2 separate regions of the Homo sapiens genome follow, and region 1 is linked to region 2. Evidence: fine-mapped QTL for protein levels in blood plasma. A gene starts in region 2. The other region holds a variant in brackets. All regions are shown on one strand. Distances are between the middles of the regions.

The links. PIP is the chance, under the fine-mapping model, that this variant and not a neighbour inherited with it causes the effect. Protein levels are from antibody-based Olink assays in UK Biobank. Linkage for the fine-mapping came from a reference panel and not from the study's own genotypes, which makes the PIPs less certain.
Region 1: its variant is fine-mapped to the plasma level of the KLKB1 protein (UK Biobank, PIP 0.98).

The regions. Positions count from the first base shown.
Region 1 is chr4:186,256,200-186,259,119 of GRCh38, reverse strand. KLKB1 (kallikrein B1) reads right to left here. Exons shown (of 15, transcript NM_000892.5): 14 at 1,755-1,894; 15 at 649-1,099. The coding sequence ends at 908. Among named protein-coding and RNA genes, the nearest start is that of F11, 8.5 kb to the left of the region's middle. The variant A/G (reference allele first, on the strand shown) is at 1,139.
Region 2 is chr4:186,226,424-186,229,343 of GRCh38, reverse strand. KLKB1 (kallikrein B1) reads right to left here and starts at 1,837. Exons shown (of 15, transcript NM_000892.5): 1 at 1,757-1,837; 2 at 1,091-1,149. The coding sequence starts at 1,148. RefSeq lists an enhancer at 2,660-2,920.

The DNA of each region.
Region 1 (2,920 bases), 30 kb before region 2:
GGGGGAGCTGGGATTACAGGTGCGCACCACCATGCCCAGCTAATTTTTGTGGAGATGGGGTTTCGTCACATTGGCCAGGCTAGTCTCGAACTCCTATGCTCAAGTGATCCACCTGCCTTGATCTCCTAAACTGTTGGAATTACAGGCGTGAGCCACCACGCCAGGCCTAAAAATGCTCCTTGAATTACTATTGCAATAGCCCATATCCACTGAGCCTCCAGGGCTAATGCCCCTTGCAAAGCAGATTCCTTGCCTGCCATGAAGGCTGTGCAATGCTGCAGCCCCTCGAGCTCCTCAGCACGCGCAGCCTGGACCCTCCTAGCCATGCCCTGGTAGCAAAGTTAGGAGGCCAAGAGGCAAAGGTGCCCATGGGTTCAGGTAACCCATCTCTTTCTTATAAAAGTGGGTGTTCTCCCTTCCTCTCGGCAGAACAAAACCCAAGCCCGCTAGCTCTTTGCCACACGTGAAGCAGGCAATAGTGGGTTTCAGTGGCCGACCAGGTGCAGCACGGAGAGGAAATTACATCTTTGAGATATACTGAGTTCCAGAGGAAGCAGTGCAATTAGAGGGATCCCAGGAACTGTGCTGGAACCTCAACCACTTACTTTCAGTTCTGTTTCACAACCAGAAGAAAACACTTGCTAATCGTGATCTTTCACCATTTTATTTCACAACACACAGTCATGGAGATCTCAGTTGCGACCTCGCATTGTCAGCCCCTGGTTACGGCGTGCTGAAAGCGGGCTTCAGCCAGACATTGTCCTCAGCAGCTCTGAGTGCACTGTGTTTTTCGTCCTTAGGATGCAAAGAAGATGCCACTCTCCATGCTTTGCAGATGAGGACCCCCCAGGCTCAGAATTTGACTTGAACTCAGGTTGTAAAAATTGCCTAGACTCTGGACTGCTTCTCATGCTGGTGACTGCATCTGAGCTTTTCCATCACTGCTCTGTGTTTTCTCTAAAATCCAGTCCATGTACTCAGCGACTTTGGTGTAGACACCAGGTTGCTCCCTGCGGGCACAGCCTTCACCCCAGCTGGTGATGCCCACCAAACGCCACATTCCATTGTGTTTGCAAACTAAGGGACCACCTGAATCTCCCTGAGTCACAGTGGAAAAATAAAATAGTAGAAAGTTACG[A/G]CAATGGGATTCAAATAAGTGACTGCCTCTAAAGTTCTGTAGTCCACTACACAGCAACACACACACACAGATACTTTCATATTTTTTTGTAGAGATGGGTTTCATCACATTGCCCAGACTGGTCTCAAATTCCTAGGCTCAAGTGATCCACCTGCATTGGCCTCCCAAAGTGCTGTGTGTGTGCAAGACCTTGCTTGCCAGACACACACACACACACACACACACACACACACACACTCACTCTTTCTTAAAGTTCTCCAAGTATCTCATGTGCCTGCATTTTTCGTATCCCCTTTTCTATCTGAAATAAATCTAACAAAGAAATCTTGATATCATCATCCCAATGATGAAGTCTAATGTTTTTATATTCTAGCACAATTATTGCATGTATATTTGCCCCTCTTAAATAGCACATGCATAGATTGTGACATATATCATAAATAATATAAATATATATTATGTATATTCAATTTGTTAAAAGTTGCTTATCAATTTATCAGATCATTTGTCTCTGAATTTTTTTAAAAACTATGATTGAATTATGCTATTGGAAAATATATTTTGAAATGAATTTTCTCAAGCAGCCTATTGTGTTTTTCATAATCTCATGAGTTACCTTACAAGCATCTTTTCCCCCTTCTTTATAGCCAGCACAGACCATCCGTTGGGTTATTTTATAATCTTGATATCTTTTCTGGCATTCTTCATTTGTTACCAAAGGAATATTTACCTTTTGTAGAATATTTTGGATTTCACCTGTGAGTAACCAATATATAACCTCAGAGGGAAGTTAATAATAATAACTTAAATAATAAATAATAATATTGGGAATATTATTATTCCCACAATAAATAATAAATATGGAAATAAGTTTTAAAGTGAATCAGAGCAGTGTATTTTTCATAAGGACCTTATCTTTGAATACAAATAGACAGTAAAAATTGGGAAGGTAGTGTTACACACACACACACACACACACACAGAGAGAGAGAGACAGAGAGAGGAAGAGGGAGAGAGACGGCACCCTGTACTGTCCTCTTATTGCCTACGTGGTGTTGGGACAAGCCCAGCACCCTGGGCTGACCAGAGACCTTGCTTCCATGTTTTCTGCCATCCCCTCATCTCAGTAGCAGCCCCCCAGAAATCCCATTTTATATTTATCACCTACAACAATCCAAAGCCTGGAAGTTCTCACTTTTCATTTTTTTGCTTTATATATTCAAAATTATAATTTACAACTATATCGTTTCTGAAAAGCCCTCCGAGCTTTGGCAACAGAGGGGTCTTTTGTTTTTGAATAAATGCAGGCCAGCATCTCTCATGGAGAACAATGTTGGGAGCTTTCATGGCTTAGTGAAGATTACTTTAAATTTCTTCTTGTCTCAGATTACCAATAAAAAATCTAAAAATGTGAATTACTTGAACAAAAGACTGAATCGGGAAAGATGGAGACAGTTTGGCAAGCTACCTTCTTCTGTAAAGAATGACACAAATATTATTCTCCATAGTGAGACGACACACCTGCCTGTGCTCCCGGCCATTAGCATCAAGGGAGAACATGGTTTTGGGAGACGGGAACGCTACTAACACTGAGGAGCGGGTGGTCTTGCACGGGCTTGTCAGCCCTAGAAGGGCCCAATCTGCTTCATGCAAAGTCAAGCAACTGATCTTTATAATGAAGTAAGATGCTTAAAAGTCTCCCTAAAATTTTTTTTCAAGCCAAAGCAAAAATACATTTTTTAAGAATAACTGAATAAATATTTGGGAATAAATAGATAGGAA
Region 2 (2,920 bases):
AATAAAAGATGTTTAACGATGACTGTTTCTGAATTTGGGGACTACATGCAATATGTAGTTTCTAAATTTTTGCTTACTTACATCCCTGATTTTCCTAGCCATAATCATGATTTATTTTGCCAAAAAACAAAACAAAACAAAAAAATGAAAAACCCCCTGTAGTTGGCTGTGGTTCCCAGTGTCTCTGGCTTATGCTCCTTCTCACCTTTCAGTGGGTTTGCACATGGGTTTGTAAATTACGGTTTAGAAGAGAAATCAGGGTTGAGGGACAGACACAGGGGAGTTGTGATTTAGGGGGAATAAAAGTCTTTTTTCCTGGAAAAAAAAAGGTCTCTTTATGAATGTAAACCTTACCTATAGATGTTTATTGTAGCCATACATCTGAGGAAAATTAAATACTCATTGTTGTGTGGCCCTCTTAAGTCACCATAGACCCAGAATCATGCCTTGTGGGGACACAGAGAAAACTCCCTCTGTAATGATTAATGAAATGTCCAGAATCATTTTTATTCTCCAAAAATTAATGAAATTAATAGAGAAATGAGATCTAAATCTGGTGTTGAAAGCTATTCACCTAGAACTATCCAAATGCATGGTTTGCTAAGTTAAATTTAAACCAGTTACTTTCATTTTTGAAATGGTTCCCTAGCGGTCCAGAGTAAAACTATGTATGGTGTTCCTAACAGATACTTGGATTGGACCCAGACACTATAAAATGCCTAGCACTCTTTTGAATTTTCAGATAAAGTTTAATTTTTTACTGTTGATAATAAAAATAGAGGACTAATTTTTTTTTGTTTCAAGTTTTGCTTTGCAGAGTGTCATCTGCGAACAGAAGTTTTTGTTAACACAAGTCCCAAGACATTCCTACTTCTGAGCTCCTTCCTCTGGTCTGCAACATATGTCTACAGCAATATACCTGACAAGTGGTCCTTGTTGTGGAACATTAAATAGACACGTGTCCTGAATCATCAGGGACAATCTCCACCCCCGAAGCTGTATGTTCAATAGCTTTCTCCAGGGGTGGTGCCACTTGCTTGGCTACTCCTGTCTTAGCCTGAATTCCATGTTTTATAGATAATTCACTTACCACAGGAAACTGTAGCAAACAAGGAAATGAAATAAGTTGCTTGCTTGAATAAAATCATTCTAAAAAAGAAAACAATACATAACTCTGCTGGTTTTAGACCACATTTAACATAAATCTTAATTTAAGGTGATTTAGATTTTCTTGTAAATGTCTGAATTGCAAGACAAAGCACACAATTACTGGTATAGAAAACAAGGGTTTTTTTTTGGTACATTTGTGTCTAGGGAGTTGGAAAATTTATAATGCTTCCCAAGATACAAATTGAGACCTCCAGACTACTGTTGTGTTTATTGTTCATTGGCCAACTCTGTGGCTAGTAATGTTGGAAAGGGAATTGGTAGAGAGAGAGTAAACAATTATGAAACCTCTTGATTTGGGCAAAAACAAAATTAATAAATAATGGCAATAATGTCAGTCCAAAAATCCCTAAGTAAAGAAAACCTCTGAAAATATTAAAGCCCATTTAAAAATTTTAAATCAATCAAATATTCTTTCTGATTTAAAATCATCTTACATTTAAATATTTCTACATAAAGGAACATTATCTATACTCTCTACATACTCAGGAAATTAGAATATAAATGATTAATTTTCTCATAAAGTAAAAAATTATACTTAAAAATTATAGTTTATTTGGAAACAATCAGAATAATAAAAATTTGCTACCTGAAAACACAATTGCTTCTTGGAGGTGAGTCTCTTGTCACTTAAAAATGAACGGTCTTCAAGCTGTTCTAATGTGGCACTGCAGGCAATATTTTGCTTGGCTTCAATATTGACTTTGGGTTTCTGCCAACAGTTTCAACTTTTTGTCCTGTCAACATATTCCATGAACATCCTATCCGTGTTCAGCTGTTAAGTATATTAACTATTTCAGGGAGTGATGTCAGCAAGAATAGGAATAGGAGTTTGTCAGAACAGGAGTTTCTAGCGCTCATCCCTTGCAGAAACATCAATTCGAACAAGTATCCATGCACGAAAATAACTTCACTAGAGCTAAGGAATCAGGTGAGAGGTTATGCCACCTGGTTGCAGCACAGAAATAAGAAAAGACACATAGAAGTGTATAGGAAGGACAATTTCACATTACCGGTGTCATCTCACCTTCAAGCCTGGGCAGCACAGTATGGAGAGAGATGCCCTCTTGCATGGAGGAGGGACAGTTAAGATAGAACCTAACTTCACCACAGATCCCAAGCACCAAGCCCACTCCAGTAAACCCCAGCACCAGGATTCAGGCCTGCCACAGGCCAGACCAGCCTCTGTGGCCTCAGCCCCATGCTCACCCCAGACCAGGTCAGCCCCTGGGGCTTCAGGCTCCAAGATGGCCACACAAAACCTAGACTTCAGGCCTGCTCCAGCTCTAGCCTGGCCCCCAAGACTCTATCTAGCCTCCACGTTAGCCCCAGCAACCCCAGGCTCCAAGTTGGCACCCATGGGCCTAGAATCCAGGCCATCCCCTGCAGATCCAGCACCAGGTCAGCCTCCAGAGATCTTGGCTCCATGCTGGGCCATGTGGACCCAGATGCTGGGCTCACCCCAGTGGACCTTGTTCCCAGGACAGCCTGAATAAACTCAGGAACAGGCCTATCCCCATGAACTCAGGTGCCAGGTGATCCCCATGTTAGGCTGGCCCCTGCAGACGCAGGCTTAAGGCTCATTTCAGTGCCAAGTCAGCCCCCAAGGATCCATGCTTCAAGCCAGTCCTTGTGCACAGAATACAGACAACCACAGTGAATGAACCCAGAATCCAGCCCTTCCCACCTTAGAACTCCAGCAGAAATCCTGTGCATAGACCCCAACAGACAGCCCACCAACAATCTCTGGTCA